7 linked regions of the Homo sapiens genome follow. The protein of the gene in region 1 purifies or fractionates together with the protein of each later gene. This does not show direct contact. Each region holds a gene or a part of one and is shown in the gene's direction. Other genes may lie near its edges.

Evidence for each region.
Region 2: the proteins of GFOD1 (region 1) and ERC1 purify together in Homo sapiens (affinity purification with mass spectrometry; 3 studies listed by BioGRID and IntAct, with this or other methods). This does not show direct contact.
Region 3: the proteins of GFOD1 (region 1) and BRIP1 purify together in Homo sapiens (affinity purification with mass spectrometry; 3 studies listed by BioGRID and IntAct, with this or other methods). This does not show direct contact.
Region 4: the proteins of GFOD1 (region 1) and AGBL5 purify together in Homo sapiens (affinity purification with mass spectrometry; 3 studies listed by BioGRID and IntAct, with this or other methods). This does not show direct contact.
Region 5: the proteins of GFOD1 (region 1) and PIP5K1A purify together in Homo sapiens (affinity purification with mass spectrometry; 3 studies listed by BioGRID and IntAct, with this or other methods). This does not show direct contact.
Region 6: the proteins of GFOD1 (region 1) and PRIM2 purify together in Homo sapiens (affinity purification with mass spectrometry, with the first as the bait; one large-scale study listed by BioGRID). This does not show direct contact.
Region 7: the proteins of GFOD1 (region 1) and GLMN purify together in Homo sapiens (affinity purification with mass spectrometry; one large-scale study listed by BioGRID and IntAct). This does not show direct contact.

Annotation. Positions count from the first base shown.
Region 1 is NC_000006.12:13,477,250-13,481,742, reverse strand, and holds part of GFOD1 (glucose-fructose oxidoreductase domain-containing protein 1 isoform 1 precursor), read left to right. Parts: intron 1-4,493.
Region 2 is NC_000012.12:1,490,914-1,494,510, forward strand, and holds part of ERC1 (ELKS/Rab6-interacting/CAST family member 1), read left to right. Parts: 3' UTR 1-3,597. UniProt on the Homo sapiens protein: Regulatory subunit of the IKK complex. Probably recruits IkappaBalpha/NFKBIA to the complex. May be involved in the organization of the cytomatrix at the nerve terminals active zone (CAZ) which regulates neurotransmitter release.
Region 3 is NC_000017.11:61,852,536-61,857,028, reverse strand, and holds part of BRIP1 (Fanconi anemia group J protein), read left to right. Parts: intron 1-4,493. UniProt on the Homo sapiens protein: DNA-dependent ATPase and 5'-3' DNA helicase required for the maintenance of chromosomal stability. Acts late in the Fanconi anemia pathway, after FANCD2 ubiquitination.
Region 4 is NC_000002.12:27,054,330-27,058,822, forward strand, and holds part of AGBL5 (cytosolic carboxypeptidase-like protein 5), read left to right. Parts: intron 1-300; coding exon 301-478; intron 479-745; coding exon 746-924; intron 925-1,352; coding exon 1,353-1,809; intron 1,810-2,293; coding exon 2,294-2,463; intron 2,464-2,973; coding exon 2,974-3,109; intron 3,110-4,070; coding exon 4,071-4,273; intron 4,274-4,493. UniProt on the Homo sapiens protein: Metallocarboxypeptidase that mediates deglutamylation of tubulin and non-tubulin target proteins.
Region 5 is NC_000001.11:151,246,473-151,250,705, forward strand, and holds the end of PIP5K1A (phosphatidylinositol 4-phosphate 5-kinase type-1 alpha), read left to right. Parts: intron 1-447; coding exon 448-493; intron 494-1,390; coding exon 1,391-1,393; coding exon of another isoform or gene 1,394-1,475; 3' UTR 1,476-3,059; downstream 3,060-4,233. UniProt on the Homo sapiens protein: Catalyzes the phosphorylation of phosphatidylinositol 4-phosphate (PtdIns(4)P/PI4P) to form phosphatidylinositol 4,5-bisphosphate (PtdIns(4,5)P2/PIP2), a lipid second messenger that regulates several cellular processes such as signal transduction, vesicle trafficking, actin cytoskeleton dynamics, cell adhesion, and cell motility.
Region 6 is NC_000006.12:57,533,365-57,537,857, forward strand, and holds part of PRIM2 (DNA primase large subunit), read left to right. Parts: intron 1-4,075; coding exon 4,076-4,261; intron 4,262-4,493. UniProt on the Homo sapiens protein: Regulatory subunit of the DNA primase complex and component of the DNA polymerase alpha complex (also known as the alpha DNA polymerase-primase complex) which play an essential role in the initiation of DNA synthesis.
Region 7 is NC_000001.11:92,249,760-92,254,252, reverse strand, and holds part of GLMN (glomulin), read left to right. Parts: intron 1-4,493.

The DNA of each region.
Region 1 (4,493 bases):
CAGCAAGCGTCTTGACGGTCAGGACGCAGACAAGGCAAAGAAGCCTCACTCACCTTTGTGTCCCCAAGCCAGCCTGCCTGGGTCCAGTCTTGTTTCTTATGCAGTCTACTCTGTACAATGGGGAAAGTGAGCACATGTGCACACGTGTGTGTGTGTGTGTGTGTGTGTGTGTGTGTGTGTGTGTAAGGTATCACTCTCCACTTTCAGTGGCTCCCACAGCACCTAGAATAACATCCAAGCTCCTTGGCATGACTTTCTTGGCCTGAAATGGCCCTGCCTTGTCCATCTCTCCCACTTCTTGGATGGCTTCACACACTCCTGGACTCTATATTCCGGCCACCTGGCCTCTTTTCTGTTCCTCACATGCCAATCTCTTTCCTGACTCTTGGCCTTTGCACCAGCTCATCCCTTTGCCCAGAAGGTTCTTGCCTCACTTTTTGGAATGGCTAGCTCATTCTCACTTTCAAGTCTCAGCTTACGTGTTACTTTGGGCGAGAGGCCTTTCTGGATCCTCCCCTCCCAATTAGAAAGTTCTCCTCCAACCTCAGTCCTGCTTCTGTCATCCTCTTTCTCTTCCTGGTAACACTCTTCCTGGTGTGTGATGATCTCTTTCATTTGCTTGCTTGCTTTCTTGCTTGCTGTTTGTTTCCCCAGCTAGAATGTGAGTTATTTCAAGGTAGGACCCTTGTCTGCTTGGTTCACCAGGGTACCCTTATCTCCCTTAGACAGTGCCAGACACTTAGTCACCTAGTAGACACACTATGAATATTTATTGAATGACAAATGAATGCATTTTCACTGAATACATGTATGCCTGGGGGAAGGCAAAAGGTTCTAAAGAGAATGTGTCAATTAACACATAGTATTCTTATCCTCCTGCATGCAGTAGCTGAATGCCTCTCAGACTTTCATGTGTGGTTGTATCACCTGGGGATCTTATCAAAAAACAGATTCCAGGTCAGGCACAGTGGCTTACACCTATAATCCCAGCACTTCGGGAGACGGAGGCAGGAGGATTGCTTGAGCCCAGGACTTCGAGATCAGCCTGGGCAACATAGTGAGATCTTGTCTCTAGCCAGGCATGATGGTGCATGCCTGTAGTCCTAGCTACTTGGGAGACTGAGGTGGGAGGATCACCTGAGGCCTGGAGGTCAAGGCCCAGATCATACCACTACACTCCAGTCTGGGCGACAGAGTGAGACCCTGCCTCAAAATAAAATAAAAACCAGATTCCTGGGTGGGACCTGAGATTCAGAATTTCTATCCAGCCCTCAGGCAGTGTGGATGCTGGAACAGTCAGACACTAAAGATGAGATAGCTCTCTGCCTTTGGGAACAGAAGACATACCCTCCTGTGAGTAATTAACCTGGCAGGGGAACCGTGCTAAAATACCTGTTGCCTTGTGTGGAATGTGATGACATCTGTTTTCATGATCTCTGTTTTTGAGACAGCAGTGCAGACTCTCTTGGTGAAGTTTCTCCATGGGAGTGCAAGGCTCTTTTGGGATGGTGAGTAAGGCCACAGGGTTTCCATGAGCTTTGATCTTGCTGCACATTGATCTTGTCCCAACTTGTTTGGCGTCATCAGCTGAGGACCTGGAGCAATTGGCCCTTTTCTGTCCTTCTTCATGGTGTCAGCAGTTGCTTCATGTTGAAGAGGGCTGCCAGGAACAGAGGTGAGGGAGCAAGGAGGAAATGGGGTTGAGAGAGGATTTTGCTGGCCAGCATTGCCACGCCAGCGGAAATAAGGCTGCAGATAATGCTCATGATGCACTTGGACTTGACAGCAGCCATTCTGACATCCTAGCAAACCCTGCATTTCCAGTTCTTGCTTGAGGTCTCTTCTGGATCTATGTGAAAAAGGTGATTGCGTTTTTCTCTTTGGGTTCCTGCCCCTGAGCACTGAGTGAAATGATTTTTGGTCTATCAATTTGTCGTAGAGCCGAGGAAGCCCTTGGGCATTATTGTTAGGAAAAGTCAAGCATCACCAATCTCATTTCATCTAATTGAAATTAGGTGCAGTTGAACGATTATTTTGTTGAGGATATCTGGCTTTGATAATGTGCAATTCTGCAGAAGTTTCCACTGGAGGGAGAAGAAGCTAAATGAAGAAGTTGGACATTTTGATACCTTAAACTGGGGAAGAAGAGCAACAACAAAAAGTGGAAGTCAATAGCATGTTTTAAGGGTTTCACCAAGAATGAAATATACAGGCACTTAGTTATATATTTGACTCAGGGCAATCATAGCCCAGGAAAGAGCATCATTATATAAGATGTTGTGCTTCATAACACTCATCAATGAAAGGAAAGGTTGACAGGTTACTACTGTGTGACTTTGGGAGTCATAATCATCCTTCCTGAGCCTCAGTTTTCTTACCAATAACACACAGCTAACACTATCATATAGGGTTGGTGTGATAAGTAAAATGAGAGGGAAAATATAAAGACCTACCTGGCAGCTGCCCTCAGCTCTCTGCATCAAGCTCAATAAACAGTAGTTTTTACTTTGCCCTAATGCAGTTAGTTCTTTTTAAAATTTTTAAAAATTTTTAAGTGAGTAGTTCTTTAGACTCTTCCAAATGGTGCTTTTGAAGATTTTTTAAAACTATTTTTTGAAGAGATGATTCCCTCCTGTAAGACTCAGAGACTATATTTAAATTTTTTCTTTTTTTTTTTTTTGGTAAAGGGATGGTACCTAAGCCAAGCTTCAGGTGTCATATTTGCTGTGAATCCAGTACGTGCTTCACAGCTACGTGATCACTCAAAGGTACTGATGGGGTTACCAAGAGCTCACCATGCTGCTCTGAAGATTTACTATCCCTTGCAGTGGGGGTGCTTAGGGGGGTTTCCCACATGACGCAGGAACAGGGCTGCAGCAGGGCTTTAGTAGATACCTGGAAACCAGAAACCCTCTGAATTTTATTCTGCTTCTCTCTGTGTGTCTGCTTCCTCATTCACCCCTCTCTACACCAGCATCCTCTGCTTCACAGGTTCATGTGGTGGGTGAAAGATTGTCCACACGCAGCTCCCAAATATGAACATGACAAGTTCAGCCACCTGAAAGGTGCAGCCCTGCCCCCGCACCCAGCTGTCTCTGTTTGTACCAGATGCTTTCTCCCTGCTCAGTCTTTCCTGTGGTTACCCACGGTGTGGGGGATACATGACCAAATGCTGCGGAGACCACCCTGCTGGAGGGGTGGAGGGATTGTTAAGAGCAGTCATTCTGATCTGGGCTGCACTCTCCAAGAAAAGTGCTGATTCTAAGAATCTAGATGGTGGAAGTTATTACAAATATGGACATTTCGGCTGGGTGTGATGGCCACGCCTGTAATCCCAGCACTTTGGGAGTCCGAGGTGGTGGATCACCTGAGGTCAGGAGTTCGAGACCAGCCTGGCCAACATGCTGAAATCCTGTCTCTACTAAAAATATAAAAATTAGCTGGGAGTGGTGTTGTGCACCTGTAATCCCAGCTACTCGGGAGGCTGAGACAGGAGAATCGCTTGAACCCAGGAGGTGGAGGTTGCAGTAAGCCAAGATTGCACCATTGCACTCCAGCCTGGGCAACAAAATGAAAAAAACTCTGTCTCAAAACAAAAACAACAAACAACAAACCAAATGTAGACATTTCTTGATTGTGTAGGTTTTTTTTGTTTCTTTGTTTTGTTTTTTTTTTTTTTGAGATAGATTCTCACTCTGTTGTCCAGGCTGGAGTGCAGTGGCATGATCTCAGCTCACTACAGCCTCCACCTCCCAGGTTCCAGCAATTGTTGTGCCTCAGTCTCCCAAGTAGCTGGGATTACAGGCATTTGCGACCACGCCTGGCTAATTTTTGTATTTTTGATAGAGATGGGGTCGCCATGTTGGCCAGGCTGGTCTCGAATTCCTGGCCTCAGGTGATCCACCCGCCTCAGTCTTCCAAAGTGTTGGGGTTACAGGCATGAGCCACCATGCCTGGCCTGATTGTGTAGGTTCTTTATCCACTTTGTGAAATACACATTTGGCATTTCACTGTTTTGATAATAACCATAGCAAAACAGTGAAAGAAATAATAGATGTGGTCATCTATTAATACCAACCTAGTTATTATTATTAAATTATTATTAAATTTAAGACATATATATTTTGAAGAGTGTGATGGGAAAGTAGATAAACATGACCAACTGCATGGAGTTCTGTGGTCTTGGTAGGTTTGTAGACCTTTACCAAGAGCCTCCTGGGTAGTGTGTGCAGCAGGTCACAGGAGTGCCACGAGACATAGTCCCTTTCTGCTCAAGTATTGTCTTAGGAGCTTGAAGGAGCCAGGAGTCAGGAAAAGATTGAGGGAGAAGGATTTCTGCCTCCAGACTGCCTTTGTACTGGAAACTGCAACATCAACTCTTCTATGGGTCTCCAGCCTGCCTGTCTGCCTGCCTGCCTGCCCTGCACATTTTAGACTTGCCAACCCCACAATTGTGCGAGCCAATTCCTTAAAACGAATCTCTCATCTACACA
Region 2 (3,597 bases), on another chromosome or scaffold:
TCGGCCAGTTAACAAGAAGATGGTGTGAGGTGTTCTCCACCAGTCTCTCCTGTTTGAGACTGTTGACGTTATCATACTGAGGTGTTAGATCAAATATCTCTAATTGAAGAACATGTGAGGTTGAAAGAGCACCAGCCAGGGCAACATAGCGTGACCCTGTCTCTACAAAAAATTAAAAAGAGAACATACAAAGTTGACATATGAGACCCTGTTGTCCCCGCCTGCAGCTTTGCCCCAGTAACAGATGCCCGTTGCTCTTGGGCTGGTTTCCCCTGAACACCTCCAAGAGGCTGCCTGCCTTGCCAGCACCCGTGTCCTGAGCTCCTGCAGCCCAGTGGCTGCTGAAGTTGTGATCCCTCACTCACCCTGCTAGCTTTGCCCTTGACTCGTCTTCTCTGAACCTCAGCCTCGTGCATTGCCTGGAACCTTCTTCTAGCATAAATGAAGGTTTTTCCTCCTACACACATTCCTTCCTCGGTTATTTCATTCAGAGAATATTTATGAAATGCCTACTGTGTGCAAGTCATCCATCCTTGAAAAGGCCACTTCTCAGTGAGGGAGAGATGTAGTGGATTCTGTGAGACATACCTGCTGGAGTTGAAGCAGTAAATAGCATGTCCTTCCCCTCCCCGATCTTAAGGTGTGTTTTCTAGAAAAGTTCCCTAATGGAATTCATGAGTTTGGGGGTCTCAGTCACCCGCTTGCCTGTAGGATTCCATTTGATGATTCTGGATTTTTGCTGTTTGTTATTGCCCTTAGAGGGGCTCTGAGTATCTACTTGTGGGTGGCCATTTCCTGACATCTGCATGTACCTCGTGGAATTCAGCCAGCTTCATGTTGCAAATCAGAAAGCTGACCCCAAGACTGCAAATCAATGAAGGTATTGGCATTGTTAAGGACGTAGCGTAGACAACAGCAGTCATAAATAATTAGGCAGGAACTTAACCCAAATCTAGTTCTTTGACCACCTCTACCACCAGAACCCAGCAGACACTCACATCTCCTGATAAGAGTTGCTGGACTCGATGTTTTTGTTTTGCATTTTCTCCTCTCCTTCCCCACTTACTCAGAGAATTTAAAGTCTGTAGAGTCAGCACAGCCCCATCAGTCCAGGAACTTCCCACCACCAGCCCTTGACTGTCCCATTAACTGACATGGTCAGATTTCCAGCTCCCCCTACTCCCTGCTGTGAAACAATCCCTCTCCCTGTGAGAGGAAACTGTGGAGCGTTTCTTATCGAAGGTTAAATGGACTCTGCTCATAAACCTCTTACTGAGATGCTTCCTGATAGCCAGGCTGGCCAGAGAGGGGTGCAGGGGTTAGATAGTAAGTGGTGGTCGTTTGTGGTCAGTTACCTCAATTCTGTTCATTGCAGTGCCCGTAAACCATGTAGAAAGCTCCCAGCACTGAAAGGCAGGAGTGTTAGCATCTCGCTTTATCCACCATAACGTAAAGAACTGCGGTGTGATAACAGCCTTCACGGGGCCACGGTGGAACCAAGACAGCAGGCGAGGCCATGCCTAAACAAGTGGTCTGGCACGGGCACTGGCCAGCTGCTCTCTCCAAGCAGGTGGCCCAGATCCCACCCACGTGGACTTTCTCATCAGGTGCAGCGCCTGCCACTCTCAGCCACTGGGTGTGTCACTCTCCTCTTCATCTCAGCATTCTCCATCACTTCCCCTCCAGAAAAACGGATGGAAGGAAGCCCTCTGTGACACTGCTTCTGAGAAGAAGCATTTCCGGGACCGATATCATCTGTCTGGTCTCTGTGAACAGCAAGGAATCTTCTTGACCGTTCTTGGGCACTGGAGGCTGGCTAGGAGTTCAGTAATAAACGTGGCCTTCGTGCTGTAGGGCAGAGTGGATGCAGTTTGTAGCTTTCAGAGTGTCTCATTGAGTCTAGATCATTGAACCAACACTTAACCAAATGTCCCACTCCCATCACACTAGGACTTGTCATTCCATGCCCCTCTCCTAGTGGTCATGGTTTCATATGGGCATACAACTGCTACTGAAGTTATATAGCCTTGAAAACTCAGTGCAGGTTGCCCTTAATTTTCCCCAAACCCCTCCATCGGCAAGTCTAGTTGCCCTTTAGCACCTAAAGATCTGCACCCCAAACCAATGTCACCATAAAGAGGGCACGAAGAAGAGTGGGTGTGATCCCAACGGGGTTTTGTAACTGAAGAAGCCCAGTGTGAGCTTCTCATCTTTTCATATACCTCTAACCCCCGGTACTCATTGAATCATTGATGAGGTATCTCAATTGAGATTTGCAAGGACTTTGATACCATTTGAAATGGAAAAATTTTGAACGGGCTTTAACATGTTTAAGAAATATGGATGGGGCCGGCCACAGTGGCTCACGCCTGTAATCCCAGAACTCTGGAAGGCTGAGGCAGGCGGATCACCTGAGATCAGGAGTTCGAGGCCAGCCTGGCCAAGATGGCAAAAACCCCGACTCTACTAAAAATACAAAATTAGCCAGGCGTGGTGGCGTACGCCTGTAATCCCAGCTACTCAGGAGGCAGGAGAATCGCTTGAGCCTGGGAGGCAGAGGCTGCGGTGAGCCGAGATCGTGTCACTGCACTCCAGCCTGGGTGACAGAGACTCCATTTAAAAAAAAAAAAAAAAAATATATATATATATATATATATATATATATGGATGGGAATCACCAAATTCATCTCAGCTCTAACCTTTTAACCTTTGTCCTTGCACTTTACAATCTAAAGATCTACCTGTGGCTCTCAGACTTCCTCACACTTGGGTTTTAGAAATAACTTGTAAAGCAGACTGGACCCAAGGCCGCCTTCAGTGTCAAGAAGGGCATTGTGACTTGCCCCTCAATTTCTGTCCATTGAAGTCTGGTTTTCCATGAGGAACTTGCGGGCTCACCCACCCCCAGAGTGAGAGAAGAGGAAGGCGAAGTCATCACAGACACGGTCTTAGCCACCTGCTGAACTAATCCCTCCGCTATTGAGGGTCAGGGTTGTGAGGCAACCATCATGTGTCACCCCAAAATATAAATGTTTCTGAGCCGCCCATCCACTGGCATTTGGATTTGCTGCCAGAGTCCTGTTCCTCCCAGAACCATCCCGCCCTCCTGTTGACCATGTTACTTGAGTGTAGGCCCGGTGTCAAGACCCTCAGAGTCTTTGAGGAAAGAGCCAAGCAGAGAAGACCGCTGCGTGGAGTGTGACACCACATGGCATTTCTCAAGCCCAGCGGACCCTGTGTCAGCAAATACCAGTAATTTAACATCTGCTCCTGGCCTCCTCTTCACCTGCCTGGGTTCGGAACTGAGGAGGAAGGATGAGAAGAGACTGCAATGCAGCAGGCACCCTCTGCAGAGTGAGGCCGCCCGTCCATCACTGCCAGCCCTGGGCTGCTCAGGAGGGGACGTGAACCACTCAAAGGAATGTCTTAAAGAGGATCTGGAGTTTCCCCCATGCAAATTAGGGAAGAATTAGGCAAGAAAAGACATACATTACAGGGAAATCCTTCTGAACAAAATGGCTGTCTTCACCTACTCTTCTTGCAAGAAAAGACATACATTACAGGGAAATCCTTCTGAACAAAATGGCTATCTTCACC
Region 3 (4,493 bases), on another chromosome or scaffold:
TATCTGTAATAAGAGTCTTAATTATTACTGTTATAAGCCCTAATTTATATAAGTTTGGTTAGCATAACTGATTATATATCTCTATCTAGTTTCTCTGGAATGATTTTAAAATAGCACAGAGTGGTCAAAAATCCATAGACGTTTTTAAATTCTTGGTTTGACTTTTAATTTATTGAGACATTTTGTTGTCCTAAATAATTTTTTAAGGAAGGCAAGGCAAAATAAATGATTTTCCAAAATTGATGTTATTTGTAGCCATTATTGTTAATTATATGTTAGAATTCTATAAAACAATGTTTGTATCCTAAGACGAAATCTAATTAGCCTCATTGATTCATTCTTGATAAGTTTGCCTGGCCTTCTGAGGCCAGTATCCTACATAAGTATCAGGTATGTTTATGTGTGATCTTTAAATAATTTTTACTAATTTTAGAGAAATACATTAAGAGTAACATAAGATTATTAATAATATATTTAAAAAATATTTCACCTGCTTTTGGCTGTATAGAAAGGATAGACTATTATTTACCTAAGAAACCTAGGGAACATCCTGGACACTTTGCTCTTTCTTATTTCTTCATGTACATCTCCATATCCATTGGTACCTCCATAGTCCAAACTACCATTTCTTGTTTAGAGCATCCAATAACGCTTTTTTCTGCTTTTACTCATGCTATTCCTTTACCAGTCACTGGCAGGGAGACAGAGGTTGCCATGATTGACTTAAGTCAAAACAAAGAGTATCCATTTCCTAAAATCAAGGATGGAGTCAGCTTCCTCTAAAGCATGTGACTATATAGAGGAGGGTAGATGATTGAACTTCTGGTAGGAATGAGGAAAGAGAAGTGGAACAGTTATTAAATAGGTGACCAATAGTGTTGTCTACATTGTTTTGATTTTGGCCTTTTGGATTTCTTCCCTTTCCTTCAAAGATTTATGCTTTCTCCTTCCTCAGAGCCTTTGCTTCTATTAGTGTCTCTTCTGAGCAAAGTTCCATCTTCAATTTATTATCCTTTTCTTCCTCAGTTTACATGTGACTTCCTTGGGGTATCCATCACTGATTTTTCTGTCAGAGTAGATTTGATTTTCCTATTATAGTCTGTCTTCTCCTTGTGTACCTTTCCTTTATAGCACTTGTTACAGTTTGTATTATATGTGTCTGTCTAAATCTTTTATTAATCTCTGCTTCCTTGGCAGACTACTTCATGAGGTTAGGAATATTGTCAATTTGCTTACCATTGTATCCCTAGAACTCTAGCAGGGTGCCTGGCATATGGTAGGTGCTAGATAAATATTTGTTGTTAGGAATGAATGGGATTAATTTTCAGCTAATTATAGGAATTCTGGTGTATAATATTTATATACAACCTTTTAAAAACAGCTTTATTGACGTTTACTTGACATAACAAATTGCATATATTTAAATGGTACTTTTTTTTTTTTTTTTTTTGAGACAGAATCTCACTCTGTTGCCCAGGCTGGAGTGCAGTGGTGTGACCTTGGCCCACTGCAACCTTCACCTCCTGGGTTCGAGCAATTATCCTGCCTCAGCCTCCCAAGTAATTGGGATGACAGGCGCCTGCCACCACACCCAGCTAATTTTTTGTATTTTTAGTAGGGACAGGATTTTACCATGTTGGCCAGGCTGGTCTCGAACTCCTGACCTCAAGTTACTCACCTGCCTCGGCCTCCCAGAGTCCTGGGATTATAGGCGTGAGCGACCACGCCCAGCCTAAATGGTACACTTTGATACATTTTGACATATGTACCTCCATGAAACTTTCACCAGAATCAAGACAGTGAACATACACACCAACCCCATATTCACTTTATCCAAAACTTTTTAAACATGCTCACTTTCCCAAAAAGTTTTCTCATGGACTTTTGTTATCCCTCTTTCCCACCCCTACATGACTCACCTCCCCAACCAACCACCTGTCTGATTTTTGTTACTATAGATTAGTTTGCATTTTCTATAGTTTATATAAATGGATTCATACAGGATGTATACTTATTTTGTCTGGCTTCTTTCACTTATGACAATTATTTTGAGATTCCTCTATGTTGTTGCATGTATTAATAGTTTGTTTCTTTTTATTTCTGAGTAATTGTGCATGGATATACCACAAATTGGTTATTGGCTGTTTATGTATATTTGGGTTATTGCTAGTTCTGGGCTATTACAAAGACAGATACTGTGAACATTTGTGTCTACATCTTTGTATGGATGTATGTTTTCATTTCTCTTGGGTGAATACTAGGAGCAGAATGACCAGATTGCTTTGTAGGTGTGTATGTTTTAACTTTTTTTTTTTTTTTTTTTTTTGAGACGGAGTCACTCTTGCCCAGGCTGGAGTGCAGTGGCGCAATCTCAGCTCACTGCAACCTCTGCCTCTCGGGTTCAAGTGATTCTCCTGCCTCAGCCTCCCAAGTAGCTAGGATTACAGGAATGTGCCACCACACCTGGCTAATTTTTGTATTTTTAGTAGAGATGGGGTTTCACCACGTTGGTCAGGCTGCTCTGTAGCTCCTGACGTCAAGTGATCCACCCATCTGTGCCTCACAAAGTGTTAGGATTACAGGCGTGAGCCACCGTGCCTGGCCAACTTTTTAAGAAATTTCTAAACTGTTTCATGAAGTGGTCATACCATTTTATATTCCCATCAGCAGTTATGAGAGTTCCAGTTTCTTCACATCCTTGTGAACCCTTGGTATGGTCAGTCCTTTTAATTTTAGCCATTCTTTTTTCCTGGAGATAGGGTTTCATTCTGTTGCCCAGGCTGGGTACAGTACTGTGATCTTGGCTCACTTGGCTCATTGCAACCCCTGCCTCCTGGAACCAAGTGATCCTCACACTTCACACTCCCTAGTAGTTGAGACTACTGGCATGCACCACCACACCTAGCTAATTTTTATAGTTTTTGTTGGTTTTACTGTGTTCCCCAGGCTTGTCTTGAACCCCTGGGCTCAAGTGATCTGCCTTCTTCGGCCTCCCAAAGCACTGGGATTATAGGCATGAGCCACCATACCTGGCCTTAATTTTAGCTACTCTAATAGGCATGTGGCAGTATCTCATTGTGGTTTTAATTTTTATTTCCCATATTTTCATGTTCTTATTAGCTATCCATGTATCTTGTTTGATGATATGTCTGTTCGAATAATTGCCTATTTTTTATTAGTTTGTGTTCTTACTGTTAAATTTTGAGACTTCTTTAAACATTTTGAATACAAGTCTTTGATCAGATAGAATTTTAGGTTTACATTTAGGTCTAAGATCCATTTTGAGTTAATATGTGTATATGGTGTAAGGTATGGATTCAAGTTCATTTTTTTGCATGTGGATATCCAGTTGTTCAGCACCTGGATATATCGAAAAGGCTATCCTTTATCCACTACATTGCCTTTGTGTCTTTATCAACAATGAGTTATCCATATGTACACAACTTGATTTTGACATTACTGTGAGTCAGTGTTATTTAGAATAGTCTAAATGGGAAAAATCAAGGTTGTATTCTGATACGCTCTTTATATTTGTAAGTAAATCCTTTAATCTGTAACCTAAATATAGAAAAATGCAAATCCTAAGTATATAACTTGATGAATTTTCACTGTCATAACTACTACATAGATTAAAAAAAAAAGAGAGAGACATTACCAACACCCCAGAGGCCCTCCTCATCTTCTTTTTCAGTCACTGTCCCTTCTTTCCATAGGTAATTCTTGTCCTCCTGTGACCATTGATGAGTTTTGCCTTTTTACAGAAATAGAGTGAAACTCCATCTCAAAAAAAAAAAATGGAATTATATATGTAATCTTGTGTCTGTCTTCTGCTTAATATTGTATTTGTGAGATTCATTCATGCTGTTGCATATAGTAGTACTTCTTGTTTCTGTGTATTATTTCCTTGTATGAATATACCACAGTTTATTAATCTGTTCTACAGTTGTTAGGCATTGGGTTGTTTTCAGTATTGTTTAATAGTGCTGTTATGAACATTCTTGTTCAAAGGGTGCAAATAGGTAAGTATTGTCTGTAGACACATACCTGGTCATAGTATATACATATGTTCAGCTATAGTAGATACTGACAACATTTTCTAAAGTGGTTGAATCAATTTATGCGTCCCCGGTCAGATCCCTCCAACCCCTGCAGCAGTATATGAAAGTTGTTCACCATTTTTGTTAGTACTTGATATTTATAGTTTAAAAAAAAAGTTAGTCATTCTTGTGTATGTGTGGTATTCTCATTGGGTTTTAGTTAGTATTTCTCTGGTGACTTCATATGTTTATTGGTCATTTGGATACCCTCTTTAGTGAATTGCCTAATCAAGTTGTTTGCCATTTTTCTTTTGTTTTTTATTTGAGGTGGGGTCTCACTCTGTCGCTCAGGCTAGAGTGCAGTGGTGCGATCTCAACTCACTGCACTGGCCAGCTCCCAGGCTCAAGCAATTCTCCTGCTTCAACCTCCTGAGTAGCTGGGATTACAGGCACCTG
Region 4 (4,493 bases), on another chromosome or scaffold:
ATTATGTGACTCAGTATACCTTTTTTATCTGCCCCCACGGAGAACAACTCCGACTACATTAAGTAATCTATTCTAGGAAGCCACAAACTGGGGAACAACAAGTTCACCCTGTCCTGTACTCTTCATTCTGGCAATGTAAACCCACTCAAATCCTTAGCCTCATTTAACATTGTGAGGGACTATAAGGCCCCAAAGGTTAGGGTGAAGGACCAGATTTTACAGATCCTGGGCTGGTGACAAGGCCTACCTCTTACTAGGACTTTAGGGACTTCTCCTGGCTTAATTTTTTTTTCCCTGTAGCCCCCTGGATACCATCTATTACCATCGGGAGCTCCTTTGCTATTCTCTGGATGGACTTCGTGTAGATCTGCTGACGATCACTTCCTGCCATGGGCTTCGAGAAGATCGAGAGCCCCGTCTAGAGCAGCTATTTCCTGATACCAGCACCCCTCGACCATTCCGTTTCGCAGGCAAGAGGGTGAGTGGAAATAGCATAAAGGTAGTTCTTTGGCTTTTCTCTAGCACCAGGTACTGTTTATAGCTAAAGACTATGTTATCTCTAGGCATCTTGGACATGGCCTCCGCCCGCAGCGTGCGGCAAGGGTGATGGCCCCTGCTCCACTTGCAGATTCAGCCAGCTGGAAATCCAGCGGCTATTCCTGCCTCATCCATGACACCCCCCATATACTGTCAAAGTAGAACTACAGGGTAACTGACTTAATGTCTGCTCTCCTCTCTACCTCAGATATTCTTCTTAAGCAGTAGAGTACACCCAGGGGAGACTCCATCTAGCTTTGTCTTCAATGGCTTTCTGGACTTCATCCTCCGACCTGATGATCCCCGGGCCCAAACCCTCCGTCGCCTCTTCGTCTTTAAGCTGATTCCCATGTTGAACCCCGATGGTGTGGTCCGGGGACACTACCGGTAAGTGGCTTCCCCAGCCTGTCTGGACTGTTCCCATTTCCCCTCATGCCCTGCATCTCAGTGAAATTCTGTCAGCCTTCTGGCTTCTGTGTTCCCAGTCCTCTTGCACCCTAATAAAGGCAAGCCCATCTCATCTTCCTGAGAAAGCATGAGATCATATCTAGTGGCACTCCCAGAAAGGAACCAAACTAGGATGACTGCAGGCCCATCTGGGTGGAGGCAGCTACCCTGAGGAAGCTCCTTAGGGTTCTATGGTAAGGGTGACAGCAGATCAAAGAGAGGCCCTGTCTTCAATTCTTTCTTTCCTAACATAGCTTCAGCCTCTCATTTGATAAGTCAGTCTCCTACGGTCTCCTTTTCATCTACACTAGTGTCTCCTTCACTGGCCCAGTCCTCTAGAACCTGCTTCAGTCCTTGTTTTCCTACAGCACAGACTCACGTGGAGTGAATCTGAACCGTCAGTACCTGAAGCCTGATGCCGTCCTGCACCCGGCCATCTATGGGGCCAAAGCTGTGCTTCTCTACCACCATGTGCACTCTCGTCTGAACTCCCAGAGTTCCTCTGAGCACCAGCCCAGTTCCTGTCTCCCTCCTGATGCTCCTGTTTCTGACCTGGAGAAAGCCAACAATCTCCAAAATGAAGCTCAGTGTGGGCACTCAGCTGACAGGCATAACGCTGAAGCCTGGAAACAAACAGAGCCAGCAGAACAGAAGCTCAACAGTGTGTGGATTATGCCACAACAGTCTGCGGGGCTTGAAGAGTCAGCCCCTGATACCATCCCCCCCAAAGAGAGTGGCGTTGCTTACTATGTGGACCTGCATGGACATGCTTCCAAAAGGGGCTGCTTCATGTACGGAAACAGCTTTAGTGATGAGAGCACCCAGGTGGGAATCCTAAGAATGTCATGTGAGTGTGAGAAGTGTTACAGGTTAGGAGATGGGGTTAGGCCATGAACAGAAGGAAGATAGCCTTAGGTAGCTTTCTGGAAGGAAGGCCTGTGTAGACTACCTCTGAAAAAGCTTTGAAGGGCCAAGAAGAGATGGCACAGGGGGATAATGTCTCAATTGTTACATCATGACCTTTTATTAAGGAAAGCTAACTGCATTATAGTCTGCTAGAGTCTGGGAATCCAGAGAAGGAAAATTTTGCATTGTTGGAGGGAGGAAGCTAAAAGCTTAAAAAAAAAAGAATTGCTTCCCAACACCTAGAAGTAATGTCAAACTGAGAATTCAGGCAGCACTGATTACTGTTAATGGTTGTGATGGTATCTGCTGTGTATTAAGTCACATGGTCACATACTTGCTATCTCTTCCTTGCACCTTGTCCCTTCTGTCTCTCCTTCTGAGTTGACTTTTCTTCCCCAAACAGGTGGAAAACATGCTATATCCAAAGCTCATCTCCTTGAATTCAGCCCACTTCGACTTCCAGGGCTGCAATTTCTCAGAGAAGAATATGTATGCCCGAGACCGTAGAGATGGCCAGTCTAAAGAGGGAAGCGGCCGTGTTGCAATCTACAAAGCCTCAGGGATAATCCACAGGTTGGGTGGAAGCTGAGATATAGTTGATGAAATAGCTTCCCTAAAGAAAACACCGTAGCTGGGTGTGGTGGTGCATGCTTGTAATCCCAGCTACTGAGGAGGCTGAGGCAGGAGAATCGCTTGAACCTGGGAGGCAGAGGTTGTGGCGAGCCGAGATCGTGCCATTGCACTCCAGCCTGGGCAACAAGAGCGAAACTCCGTCTCAAAAAAAAAACAAAAAACAACACCCAGTTCAGGGTGTTTGAGAGGGAGGGAACCACCTTAGTCTTCTTAAAAGAGAACCTCACAATTAGCATTATTGTCTTTAGTCTAGGACTCTACCTTGGGGGGACTCTCTGGGTATATGGTACAGTACCAAGGTCAGCTGCTAGTTGCTATGGATTATTAGCACTTTCATTTGTGTTCACTTTTTTCCAAGTGATTGCCTCCTTTGACCACCTAAGTTGTCCTCTATGGTTCTGTCCTGGTATCTGTTCAGGCGGGACACTGATAAAGGTCTTTATGTCTTAGCTACACACTTGAATGCAACTACAACACTGGACGCTCAGTAAACAGCATCCCTGCTGCCTGCCATGACAATGGGCGTGCCAGCCCCCCTCCCCCGCCGGCTTTCCCCTCCAGATACACTGTGGAACTATTTGAGCAGGTATGAATACATGGTGTAAGTGGGAAAAGGGAGAAACCTTACAGTCTGGAAAGGCCTTCACTCTTAGTGCCTGACTCTAAGGTCCTTTGAAGAGATATTCATCACTATGGCCGTCTCACCACTATGATTATTTTCCTCAGTTAACAGGAGCATAACTACAACTGTAATAGTATTGAAAGGATGAACAGGCACTATATCTGACCCCACATCACAGAGAATCCCCTAGCACCTCTGAGTCAGATTCTTTGCCTCTGGGCTTGTCTTTCTCATTCTATTGGATTTATTAGTTTCTGGGCTCAAAAGCACCCTGACTGTAGTGGTCTTGATGATTCCCATTATCCTAATAGAAAGAGCTGGCCAGGTGCGGTGGCTCATGCCTATAATCCCAGCACTTTGGGAGGCCAAGGCAGGCGGATCACCTGAGGTCAGGAGTTCAAGACCAGCCTGGCCAATATGGTGAAACCCCATCTCTACTAAAAATACAAAAATTAACTGGGCATAGTGGCACATGCCTATAGTCCCAGCTGCTCAGGAGGCTGAGGCAGGAGAATCACTTGAACCCGGGAGGCAGAGGTTGCAGTCAGCCGAGATCACACGCCACTGTACTACAGCCTGGGCAATAGATCAAGATGCCGTCTCAAAAAAAAAAAAAAGTAGATCTGTAGGTTACAGAAGGGATTCAAACCCCTTTCCTGCTAGGAGAATTCCTTCATGGCACCAGCCAGAAAGAAAGGACACACTTTGCCCCTCATAATGGAAGAGGGCCCCCAAATTGGCGGTAGTTTAGGGAACAGCTCCAAATCCGTTTGCAATAAACAGCCTGGGCACAAAGGTTAGGGCATCCAATGAGCAAATTATAGGTCTGGCCCCTCCTTCCCTTCCACTGTGCTGTGTACCCACCCCAAGGTAGCAGCCTGGATGGGAGGACCAGCATGCTGAGCCAAACTGGACTACCCCACAGGTGGGACGAGCTATGGCCATTGCAGCCCTGGACATGGCGGAATGTAATCCGTGGCCCCGAATTGTACTGTCAGAGCACAGCAGCCTTACTAATCTACGGGCCTGGATGCTGAAACATGTACGCAACAGCCGAGGCCTAAGCAGCACTCTGAATGTGGGTGTCAACAAGAAGAGGGGCCTTCGAACTCCACCCAAAAGTCACAAGTAAGGCCAGCAAAATAGGAGGGAGAAAGGGTAGGACAGTGGGACAGGGCTCTAGAGCTAGGAGTTCCAAGGGATTTATATTCCTTCCATCCTCCTCAAAGTGCCAAATGGCAAATATCTTCAGGGTAAATTAAAATTAGTCAGATTAGTTTATTCTTTTAGAATGGGATCCTCTTCCCTTTTATTCTGAGCTACATACACCTAAGAGATCTGAGTATCA
Region 5 (4,233 bases), on another chromosome or scaffold:
GCAGGGGCTAGAGCATGAGTCCAAGAAGAAGATACAGTATTTTTGTAATCTAATCTCAGAATGGACATTCCATCTCCTGTGCTGCATTCTGTTCATGAGAAGAGAATCACTAAATGCAGCCCACACTTGAGAGAGAATTACACAATGGCATGGATCTCAGGAGGCAGGGATTATTGGGGGCAATCTTAGAGGGTACCTACGACACCTGGAGATTGAAACAGAAGAGGGCAGGGTACTGGGAAATATTTTATAGTATTCAAGAAGCTAAATATGGTTAATTAAAACAGTGTGCTTCTAAATCTAGTAGCTTCTCAGCCTCTTCTTTCCAAATTCTAAATTGATTCCAAAGTGAAAATTAGAGAAGCAGTATGAGATTTAAAAGGAGAGTCCTTTGTTGTTGTCTTCTAATTCTTTTTCTCTCTGCTTCCATTTTTTTTCTCCTGTTAGTACAACCTTGGAAAAGCTTGAAGTTGCAGAGTCAGAGTTCACCCATGTGAGTATCTGGGATGTGTGGGAGGTGAACGTTTTGCAAGGTATAAAGAGGATCACTGATGGCCTGGAGCAGGAAGTTAATTGTCAAGATTAGAGGATCTGGGTACCTCCTAAATCTTGTTTTTTATTTTTTATTATTTTTTTATTTTGTACTTATTTATTTATTTATTTATTTATTTTTGAGATGGCGTCTCACTCTGTTGCCCAGGCTGGAGTGCAGTGGTGCAATCTCAGCTCACCTGCAACCTCTGCCTCCTGGGTTCAAGCAGTTCTCCTGTCTCAGCCTCTGGAGTAGCTGGGACTACAGGTGCGTGCCACCACGCCCGGCTAATTTTTTATTTTTTAGTAGGCGCAGGGTTTCATCATATTGGACAGGCTGGTCTTGAACTCCTGACGTCGTGATCTGCCCACCTTGGCCTCTCAAAGTGCTGGGATTACAGCCGTGAGCCATTGCACCCAGCCATCGTGTTTGTGTTTTTGAGACGGAGTCTTGCTCTGTCACCCAGGCTGGAGTGCAGTGGCGCGATCTCGGCTCACTGCAAGCTACGCCTCCCAGGTTCACGCCATTCTGCTGCCTCAGCCCCTTGAGTAGTTGGGACTACAGGCGCCCACCACCATGCCCGGCTAATTTTTTGTATTTTTAGTAGAGCAGGGTTTCACCGTGTTAGCCAGGATGGCCTCGATCTCCTGACCTCGTGATCCACCTGCCTGGGCCTCCCAAAGTGCTGGGATTACAGGTGTGAGCCACCATGCGCGGCCGCCATCTTGTTTTTTAAAAAATATTTTTGGTACCTCATACTTGGAGGCTGAGGCTGAAATAGAAATTTCTTAACGCTTGAATTCCATTTCTGCTTAATCTCATACTCCACATCCTTAACTTTACACTCTCCCTTTTCAGTAAGCGCAAAGCCTCAGAAGACCTGGAACAAGATTCTGCCATCTCTGTGATCCCAAGATGTCAGCCCTTGCCCCAGCAATGCTGAATTTTCTTCTACTTGGTCATCAAAAAAGGAGTGTAATAGAAGTGAGGGGAGCTGCTCCTCCATCTTCTTCCTGAAGAAGAACCTTCTCTCCTTCCTCTTCCTCATGAATGGGCCTTAGTGCCTCAGAGAGTTGAGGACCGCAGCATCCCCTCCACTCCAGAGTTGGGTGGTATGGATTTTCAACTGGCCAACCCTTTGCCTCCACTATTGAATTTTTTTCAGACCCCCATTCTTCATGCTGGAAATGGGATTGCTGGACTTGGCAGCTTTCTTTCCCCTCGTCTTTGACTAGGAACCGGACTCTTAATTTCCTCAGGACAGACTAGCTGGCACATTATCCCTACCTTAGTTCTTTCTCTCTGACTCCTGGAAGAATACTCCTGTAATCTCTGTAAAGGTTTTTGGGGGATAAGGGTGTTTAACCACCTCCCAGCTTTCTTCTTCTTTTTTTTTTTCTGAAAAAAGGAAAAAGCACACAGCACACAATTTCAAGCCATTTTCAGATCAGAACTCCAGAAGTGTTGACAAGATGCCTATTCGTAGAGTTCCCTCAGAAGAGCCATGGTGTTTATGAAGAGAAGAGTAGTGATTGCTCTGCCAGAAGCAGCTCCTCTTTAAACTCCTCCTCTCTTGATGAATTTCTTAAGGCTGAAGGAATGAAGAGAGTGGGACATGGGGTAATCTTTATCCCTTTTGTTAAAACAGGAGGCAGCCATGGGCTGGGAGATCATAGCCCTTCCTAGGCAGAATCCTGTTCACTGCCAGGCTATAGTAATTATTACTATTTTGCAATTTGAAATATATTCTGGTTGTTTTTCTAAATGTGAAGACTTACCAAATGAATTTTAGATCATTCTCCAGAGGAGATTTTTTTTGCTCTTCTCATCTTTTCCAACAGTGTTCTCCTGTTTGTGGAGCTAAGGTAAAGAGGGGACACTTCTGTCTGTTTAACAGACAGTCCATATCTGTGAGGCCAGCAAATATTTTCTTAAACTCATGGGGAGACAGCAGATTCTTGCCTTGGTGAGGTCATTGCTGTGCCATATGTCCTACCCCCCTGTCTTCATGCAGGGAAGTTGGAAATGGGGGCTACATATGCCCTCTCCTCCCCGTCTACAAGAGTTGTGGTTTTCCATCTGATCCTTCCACTCTTGTCAGGGGAAGAAGGGGGCCTGGTATCTCAGGCAGATTGTTGAATTCCTGTTCTATCCCTTCTCTATCCCACCCTGCCTTGATAATATGTTAGCCCATACCCCAAATAACTGTCTATATTAGACACCCCCAGCCAGTTTCTGGCTGCCTGTCTTTGCTGCCATGTTTTTTACAAGAAGGAAAGAATTCTTGCTATTTTTTTTTCATAATTTACTATTTATGATGTATTTAAGTGTTTTATTAAGGACAGAGTTCTGTTAGGGGTGGGAGGGAATATTTGAGGGAGGGCTGGGTCTTAGGGAAAGGAATGGGGAAGCAACATTTTTATTAAGTGTTACTATTTGCCTCTACTTTGTATTGTTCAGAAATGGCAAATACAATATAAAAGTGATATATGGTTTTAATGTAATAAACTTTAATGAGTTATTTAGACCTCTTATTTTTTCTGATTCTTTTTCATATACCATCTGCTCACCCTCCTACTCCACCACCCAGGCTCAGTTTTGTTCATGTTGCCCTAAACAAAGGCTGCATACTTTCCAGCTTGCAACACTCCAGCTTCACTCTTAAGGCTTTATGTCCTTATATCCTCTTCCTCAGCAACCCCATTATCTTCACGAGGAAAAGCAGTGAATGAATATGAGGGGAGTTACTGTAGGTCTCTTGCCTAGGTTGCAACCCAATTTAACAGGGATTTGAGGTTCAAAACTCACTTTACTCAGTTAAGTGAGGAAAGGAGAGGGACAGTGGGAAAAGTAAGTTTGAGGTTAGCTGGCCCTAGTGATTCCCTCCCTTTCGTTCTCTTGACCTGGCCCTAGGGCGTCACTCTTAGAAGATCATAGAGATTGCTTTCTTTAGCTGTTTTCTTTTGTGAGGTTGAGCTAAGGCTCCTTTGATAGGAAACTAGACAAAAAAGTAGGGGCGGGCCAGGCGCGGTGGCTCACACCTGTAATCCCAGCACTTTGGGAGGTGGAGGCAGGTGGATCACCTGAGGTCAGGAGTTCGAGACCAGCCCAGCCAACATGGCAAAACCCCGTTTATTGAAAATTAGCAGGGGATGGTGGCATGCGCCTGTAGTCCCAGCTACTTTGGAGGTCAAGGCTGGAGAATTGCTTGAACCTGGGAAGCAGAGGTTGCAGTGAGCGAAGATTGCGCCAGTGCACTCCAGCCTAGGCGACTGAGACTGTCTAAAAAAAAAAAAAAAAAAAAGGAGCGGTGAGGTTCATTCTGAGGCATGAAGATAGGGAACCTTTGGAGAGAAGCAGTTAAGCAAACAGCTGCTTTTCATACCACTATTCCCTATCTTGTTAAGGGCACTCCAAATATTTATATAGCAGCTAATGAGCAATGCATGGAGTAGATGGAGATCAAAGAAATAATTGTCCTTCAAAAGTTTCTAGTTTCCAGGAGGAACACAAATCACAAAAACAATATGTTATATGTGAGACAGCTACTTAAGCTCTCTGAAGGTGGCACAGAACATAAAAGGGGGAAAAATTAGCAGTTACGTGCGAAAGAAGTGTTAAGAGAATGTTTCACTTCAGCACAAGGACCTAGATGCATGAGAATGGTCTGTTTTTGAGAACAAGGAAGAGATCATGATGAG
Region 6 (4,493 bases), about 44 Mb from region 1:
TACACAGGGATTTTAATGCTTGGAAACAAGAACTGTAATAAGACTAGTAGAGAAAGAACGTGAGTTTGGATCAGAATGAATAGGTCGTCTTCCATTTGAAAAATTATAAAAAAGTACTTGCAGTTAATATGTCTAGAAATAACAGTAGGGTTGCCTACTTTACACAGTTGATTTGTTGATTTGAAATTTGTTCTCAAAGATGTCCCATCTTTTAATTTTTTTATTAAACACTTATCTCTAACAGTCCACTTTCTCACTTCCACTCATGTGATTTGTGCTTATATAATGTGAATGGTTGGAGGTTAATTCTGTTCTTAGTTCTAGCTAGATGTTTCCCTATTCACAAGCAAATGTGAATTTCATTGGATACTGTTGGAGTTCATAGAAATATTAATTCATTTAATGGATATGTATTGAGCCCATCAGTTATGTAGCAGCCATTGTGCTGTGGATACAGAAGTGAGGAAAACAGAAAATGTCCCTGCCTTCATGGACCTTACATGAGGGAGAGGGACAACATAATAAATAATAAATGAGCAATATAATGTTAAGTGCTATGATGATGATCCTGTCATGGGTCTGTGCCTGAGACCCCGTGGTGAGTAATACAGATGTATCTTTTTCTGGACTGCCTCCTAACTCTGTATCTATATTGTTTGATCTTCACAACAGCATGTCATTTGCATATCCCTTGGTATTTGCAACTCTTCTCCAAATGTTTTCTTTAGTTTTTTCTTCTAACAAATCTGGCTTTCTCAATGCTGTTTCCGCTGTGGGCCTCTTCAAGTAGAGACAACTTTCCCCCCGAGTTCATATATAGGTATGCGGTGAGTGTCTTTCTTGGTCCGCATTTCTCTGCCTTCCATTGTTACAGCTCCAGCTCCTTTAAAGCCCTTGTGATCTTATTATATCATCTGATACCTCCTTTGTTGCTATTCGACCCCCTCCCCCCACACCTGTATTCGTTGATGATTTGAACACCTAGCTAATGGTCTTGTGTACTGGCGCTATTGTTGTTATTGTTCTTGGCCTCTGCAAGATCCAAGTTGATAATTTATCCCCTATCCTGGACTTATGATTCTTTTGTTTGCTTGTTTTCCATGATCATTTTTCTATCTGTATATAGCCAGACACTATCTTTTTAATTTTTATTATTTGGACTACTGCCCACACCTCTTAAGTATCCCTCCTGCTTCCATTCTTACTCTCATATAGTCTTTTCACTACATAACAGCCAGAGTTCTCTTTGTGTATTGAATCACATCAGTCTTCTGGTCAGAACCCTCTAGTGGGTTTTTATCATATGTAGACTTAAATCCAAACTCATGTTGTGGCCTCTGAAGCCATATGTGCTCATCATTTCTATTTTATCTTCTGCTCCATTCCGGCTCATTCACTTGCTCTGGTCACATGGATCTTATTCTCTCTTTTAGCACACCACATTTATTCCTTCTCAGGATCTTCATTTCACTAGAATCCAACTTACTTTGTCTTACTTGAAATGCCATCTCCTCAAAAAGGCTTCCCTGGCCACCCAAATTGAAGTACCTCTCCCCTAATCACACTTGATTTCATTTCTCTATTTCATTTCCAGTGTTTTGGCATCAGATGTTATCTTTTTAATGTCTGTATTCATTGTCCGTCTCCTCCTATTAAAAATAAGCTCTTCGAGGACAGGGTTTTTGACTTCTTTGTTCACTACTGGTTCCCCAGGGCTGTACACATAGTAAGTGTTAAATAAATATTTGTTGATTGAATGAATAAGAAGTAATCAAGGAATGTGCCAAAAGAAATAGAAATTGAGGTGGGTCTTGAATGATGACTTGGCTTTGGCTACATGGCATGTGCATGAGAAGGGTGCACCAGGCAGGGCTAGCAGAGTGAGAAAAATGAGAAGCTACAGAGCATGACTGCGTGGTCATGGGATATTGAATAATCCAGTGGACTGGAGCCGAGGACTCATTTTGGTGTAGTAATAATATACTGGGCTTTCCCAGGCTCCCTGTCACAGTGCTTCTGTGGTGCTCAAGTTTTGCCCTTGTTGGAGCCCTCATTTTATCATTTATTTCATGTGTTTAACTTACATAGTAGTGAATATAATAATTGTGGTGTCTTTTTCCTTAACTGAATTAAAGGGGACAATTAGGTCCTAGCTTATTTTCCAGAACACTTAATAAATAATTGTTCTGTTATGTATAATTGAAAAGTAGTTATTGGCCAGGCGCAGTGGGTCATGCCATCTGCAATCCTAGCACTTTGAGAGGCCAAGGTGGGAGGATCACCTGAGGTCAGGAGTTCGAGACCAGCGTGGCCAACATGGTGAAACTCTGTCTCTACTACAAATACCAAAATCAGCTGGGCATGTTGGCAGGCACCTGTAATCCCTGCTACTCAGGAGGCTGAAGCAGGAGAATCGCATGAACCTGGGAGGCAGAGGTTATAGTGAGCCGAGATGGCACTGCTGCACTCCAGCCTGGGCAACAGAGTGAGATTCCATCTCAAAAAAATAAAAAAAGAAGAAAAAAAAAGAAAGGTAGTTACCAGATATTGAGGAAACCTTGCATGTTCATACTAAGGATGTTGAATATTGATTGTATGGATTAGAACAATGTTTAGAAAAAAATCAGATATTAATATGAAGGAACAAAAATGGTCTCATGAAAAGGAGCTGAAAGGCTTTCTAGTTAGTTCTAGATATAGAACCAAGGGAGGATATAGGTCTGAATGAACTAGACTGGGGATGGAAAAAATCAGAAGTTGTTACTGTAAAAGAATGAAGAGAAACTAGATGGTCACTAGAGGGAGCAGCAAAGTCAAGCAAAGTGAGACCTGCTCTTTCTTATAGATGAAGTGAACTTGCTAAGGCATATGTGAGGGAGTAAGAATTTAAGTCTTGGGAGGATATTTAAGGAAGTCATAGAGAATGCAATTGAAACCGTAAGTGAAAAATTAAAGTAGGCAATGATATTTCATTTTTGGCACTAAGGCACTAACTACACTTTGTTCCTTTTAACTTGGTTTCTTTAACATATTTATTTGAATTTTCCTTATGAGAAGTTTCTCTTATTTTTGTATTCTGCTTTGTATTTGAGTTATCTTAAAAGTTCATCTGCTATTCAGCAATTGTACTTTTATCTCAGGGAAATGAAATCTTATGTTCACATAAAAACCTCTTCAAGAATGCTTATAATACCTTCATTTGAAATAGCCCAAACTGGAAACAACCCAAGTGTTCTTCAATGAGTGAATAAATAAATTATGATACATTCATACCATGGAAAACTATTAGTAATAAAGAAATGAGCTTATATACAACTTAGATGAATCTTGAGGGAATTCTGCTGAGTAAAAAATGACAATCTCAAAACAATACATATTATATGATTCTATTATACTCTTGAAATGACAAAATTATAGAGATGGAGAACCAGATCAGTGGTTGCCAAAGATTAGGGAGCTGAGGGAGGGGAGCAGGGTGCAAAAGATAGATGGGGGTGGTTATAAAATCATGAGAGATCCTTGTGGTGACAGAACTGTTCTGCATGTTGACTGTGGTGGTGGATGTATGAACCTACATGTGACAAAACTGTATAAAATTTAATACGGAAGTAAGTGCATGAGTACAACTGAGGAAACCTGAATAAGACTAGTGGATTGTATCAATGTCAGTATCCTGTTTGTGATAATCTACTGTAGTTGTATATGATTTTATCTTTGGGGGAATTTGGATATATGCTATCTCTTTGTATTATTTCTTGTAACTGTATGGGAGTCTGTAGTTAACTTCAAAGAAAAAGTTTAATTAAATTAAAAAAACAGGTAAAATAAATTTTAATAGTATGTTATTTAATCCAAAGTATCTAAAATATTATATTAACTTGTAACCAGTAAAAAATGTTAATAAGAAACATCTTATACAGATAAGAGTCATCTGTAACCACAGTAATAAAGTGGCACTTTCTTATGGTGTTTTTTTTTTATTCCAATTAAATTGAATTAGGAACCATAACAAATATTACAGGGGACCTGATAAGTCTTCCACTTAACTTAAAACTCTACTATTTTTTTCTTGTAGCTTTCTACCAAATCCTTCCCACCTTGCATGCGTCAGTTACATAAAGCCTTGCGGGAAAATCACCATCTTCGTCATGGAGGCCGAATGCAGTATGGCCTATTTCTGAAGGGCATTGGTTTAACTTTGGAACAGGCATTGCAGTTCTGGAAGCAAGAATTTATCAAAGGAAAGATGGATCCAGACAAGGTAATTTTGAAAAAAAATATCAGAGTGGTACCTGATATTTTAATTTGGTCTGAAAATGAAACGGTCTATTTTTTTTTTTAAATATGCTCCCTGCAATGTAGTTGAAAATTCTAAAAGGATAAATGTGTTGACAATTCAGTTTAGATAAAAAGAAACTTGCATATTAATCTAATACAAAAGATTGGGGAAGGAATGTTTTCATTTGTAGGTATACTGCCAGTAGTAATTATAA
Region 7 (4,493 bases), on another chromosome or scaffold:
TTGGAAGCTTTGTTCATTCCTTTTCATTCTTTTTTTCTCTAATCTTGTCTTCACACTTTATTTCATTAAGTTGATCTTCAATCTCTGATATTCTTTCTTCCACTTGATCGATTCAGCTATTGATACTTGCATATGCTTCACGAAGTTCTTGTGCTGTGTTTTTCAGCTCCATCAGGTCATTTATGTTCTTCTCTAAACTGCTTATTCTAGTTGGCAATTACTCTAACCTTTTATCAAGGTTCTTAGCTCCTTGCATTGGGTTAGAACATGCTCCTTTAGCTTGGAGGAGTTTGTTATTACTCAACTTCTGAAGCCTACTTCTGTCAGTTCATCAAACTCATTCTCTGTCCAGTTTTGTTCCCTTGCTGGCAAGGAGTTGTGATCCTTTGGAGAAGAGGTGTTCGTGTGCTTGGAATTTTCAGCCCTTTTCCGCTGCTTTTTCCTCGTCTTCGTGGATTTCTACCTTTGGTCTTTGCTGTTGGTGACCTTTGGGTGGAGTTTTTGCTTGGGTCATCCTTTTTGTTGACGTTAATGCTATTGCTTTGTGTTTGTTAGTTTTCCTTCTAACAGTCAGGCCCCTCTTCTGCAGGTCTGCTGCAGTTTGCTGGGGGTCCACTCCAGACCCTGTTTGCCCGGGTATCACCATTGGAGGCTGCAGAACAGCAAAGATTGCTGCCTGCTCCTTCCTCTGGAAGCTTCATCCCAGAGGGGCACCCGCCAGATGCCAGCCGGAGCTCTCCTGTATGAGGTGGCTGTTGACCCCTGCTGGGAGGTGTCTCCCTATCAGGAAGCACGAGGGGTCAGGGACCCATTTGAGGAAGCAGTCTGTCCCTTAGCAGAGCTCAAGCGCTGTGCTGAGAGATCTGCTGCTCTCTTCAGAGCTGGCAGGCAGGAATGTTTGTCTGCTGAAGCTGCACCCACAGCCACCCTTTCCCCAAGGTGCTCTGTCCCAGGGAGATGGAAGTTTTATCTATAAGCCCCTGACTGGAGCTGCTGCCTTTCTTTCAGAGATGCCCTGCCCAGAGAGAGGAGGAATCTAGAGCTTAAGTTTTTTTTCAATTTCCATTTCTATTTAAGATTCAGGGGTGCAGGTTTGGTACAGGGGCATATTGTGTAAGTTGTTTCTTTCTCTAAGATAAAACATATCCATGAAATATTTGCAGAGCCGGATGACTTCTATATGAATTAGAAGAAAGGGGAAACCTGGGTCTTGTTCATGGCTTTTTATTTCTTCATTACCATCACTGACTGTATTCTTTGCAGGGTTCCTGACTGTTCTGGCAATAAATTTCATTGTAGTGTAGAACTGCCTAGTCTTCCTTTTGTGAGAGAGATATGCTACAGTGAATTTTGAAATGTATAGTTTTAAGCCTTAGAACTGGAAATCAGTAAGCCTCCTTGGGTATGAAATTAAAAGCAGGTATTTGTGAACATTTCAAATTTTTAATTATAACTATTTTAAAACTCTTAATTTACTTTTTCTAGACACTGAAAGATTTTAAGAAATCTTAAAATGTGATTTTCTTTGTAGTATTTATTATTTCTTTAAAAACGATCTGGTAACCTTGAGAGAAAAAATATTCTTATTCTCACAGCTTCTTCACTCCTACATGCTTCTAAAAATATTACAGTTTATCATCTGAAAAATTTGTGGAATTATGCTGAACAGAATATGTAAAAAATTTCTTTAGGCTACTTTTGGCATGTGTTTTTATTACCTGAAGTTTTATGATTATGGGCTATTGCCATTGAAAACAGCTAAGGTTTTAACATTCAAAGATCTAGATTTGCACTGTCCAATACAGTAGACAGTAGACACATGTGACTATTTAAATTTATATTAATTTTTTTTTCCTTTTGAGTTGGGGTCTCACTCTATAGCCCAGGCTGGAGTGCAGTGGCGCAATCACGGCACATTGCAATAACAACCTCCTGTACTCAGGTGATCCTCCCATCTGGGATTACAGGCATGAGCTACTGCGCTGGGCCAGTACTCTTTATTAATATGTGATTATTTCCATTTGAGAAATTTGAAACATTAAAAGAAAACGTTTGGTTAGAGATACATTTGCTTTTTAAAGTCCTGATTTAGTAATTTGGTTAAAATTTTTGGCTGAAGAGAATTAGTGAAGCTTAATTGTATATTTGTACCAATGAATGATTATAAAACTTTATCACTGTAATCCCAGCACTTTGGGAGGCTGAGGCGGGCAGATCACCTGAGGTTAGGAGTTAGAGACCAGCCAGTCCAACATGGCGAAACCCCATCTCTACTAAAACTACAAAAAAATTAGCTGGGCATGGTGGCAGACGCTTATAATCCCAGCTACTCTGGAGGCTGAGGCAGGAGAATTGCTTGAACCCAGTAGGTGGAGGCTGCAGTGAGCTCAGATCATGCCTCTGCACTCCAGCCTGGGCAACAGAGCAAGAAGACACCATCTTAAAAAAAAAAAAAAAAGTTTTGGGAATCAGATTTAAAAGAATTTCCATTACAAAGTAAAACTGAAAGGATGAAAGAAAAAAATTTTCAACTTAGAACTTCTACAAGAGGAAAGTTTTTCATGGATACAAATTCTTTGGTTATATTTTTGCAAATATTCCAGTCTGTGGCTTGTGTTTTAATAGTATTTTTCAAAGAACAGAAATTTTAATATTTATGGAGTCCAACTTATCAATTTTATTCTTTTATGATTCATTATTTATGGGTTCTAAGAAGTCTTTGTTAACCCAGATCACAAAGGTAATTTCTTGTAGAAATTGTATAGTTTTAGGTTTTACACTTAGGTCAATGACCCCATTTCAAGTAAACTTTTTATGATATGAGATATGGGTTGAGAGATTTTTTTTTCTTTTATTTTGACCTCAACACTATTTGTAGAAAAGGTTATCCTTAATTTACTGAATTATCTTGGCAACTTTATCAAAAATCATTTTATAAGTATGGGTCTATTTTTGGACTCTATTCCATTTACCTGTATCTATTCTTTTACCAATACCACACTGTCTTGATTCCTTTATAGGAAGAAATTATTCTGTTTTATTCCTTTATAGGAAGTCTTGACCTCAAGTAATGTGAGTCTGCCAACTTTGTTCTTCTTTTTCAAAATTGTATTGGCTATTTTTAAATCCTTTACCTTTTCTGTATAAATTTTAGAATTTTGTCAATTTCTGCCACAAAGAGTTTTAATTCCACTTATGGCATTCTGGAAAAGGCAAAAATTACCTTAACAAAAATCAGATTGCTGGTTGCTGGAGGTGGGAGGAAACTGACTACAAAGGGGCACAAAGAAATTTCTGGGTCATGGGAATATCTTTACAGCAGCAGTGGTTACATGACTTTATATCACTATATATCTTTGTCAAAGCTCAGAATTGTATAGCTAGAAGGTTATATTTTACTGTATGTAAACAATATCTCAACAAACCTGACTTTGAAAAATAATAAAAAGAAAAGAACTAGGCTCAATAGTGAATTAGACTGAAATTACCTCATGAACAGGCAAGCACACTGATTATGTAAAAATCTTTCTGATGTTTACTTTTGAATTGTTTATTCTCCATTTTTCTACATTAAAGTATTAAGATTAAATGTGTTATATGGAAAGGATTTGAGGGAAAACTTTTATTTCAACTATATAAATAAACGTGTGAGTTGTGATGTAAAACCTAGTTTTTACTGAGAGTCATGGCAAAAATAATTTGAAAAACAGTATCCTAGAAAAACTTTTACCCCGTGTGAATGGGAAAACATACAGCAATGTAAATGCTGCATTATTTTGAAATACTAAAAACTTAGGATAAATTCCATATAATGGAATGCTTATGCACCAATTAAAATTAGAGCTACAACACAAATAACTCTCAAAAACATAAGATTGACAAAGAAAAAGGAAGCTGAAGCAGGTTATATACAGTATACCATTTATGTGCTTTTAAACATGAAAAATTATATTGTTTAAGTGATACATTAGGAATGCAAAACATTCAAGTTTTAGATAATGGCTACCTCTTGAATAAAGGGGATTTCAGCCATATCTAGTATTTATTTTTTAAAAGTAAATATGATAAAATGTTTCCTTTTGTCAAAGGTTTCCTTTTGTCAAAGCTAGGTGTTTTCCCTATACTCTTTATGTTCAAATGTGCTTTAGTGGGTAACAGAGAGTCATCAGTAACCTAGTCTTGAAAGCCATCAGTTGCAGTGGGTTCTGCCTATAAACCCAGAGGTGAATGCAAAGTAAAAAGAAAAAAAAAAAGTTGGGGGGCAGGGAATAAATGGTGAAGAAAAGGCTGGACGTAAAAAGGAATAAAAGCCTGTTATTTGCAGCAACGTGGATGGACCTACATGTCATTACATTGAAATATGCCAGGCCCAGAAAGACAGTATCACATATTCTCACATGTGTGAGCTAACAAACTTGATCTCGTGGATACAGAATATAGAATGATTGATTGATACCAGAGTGTGAGCATGGGAGGAGGAAATGTAGAGCAAC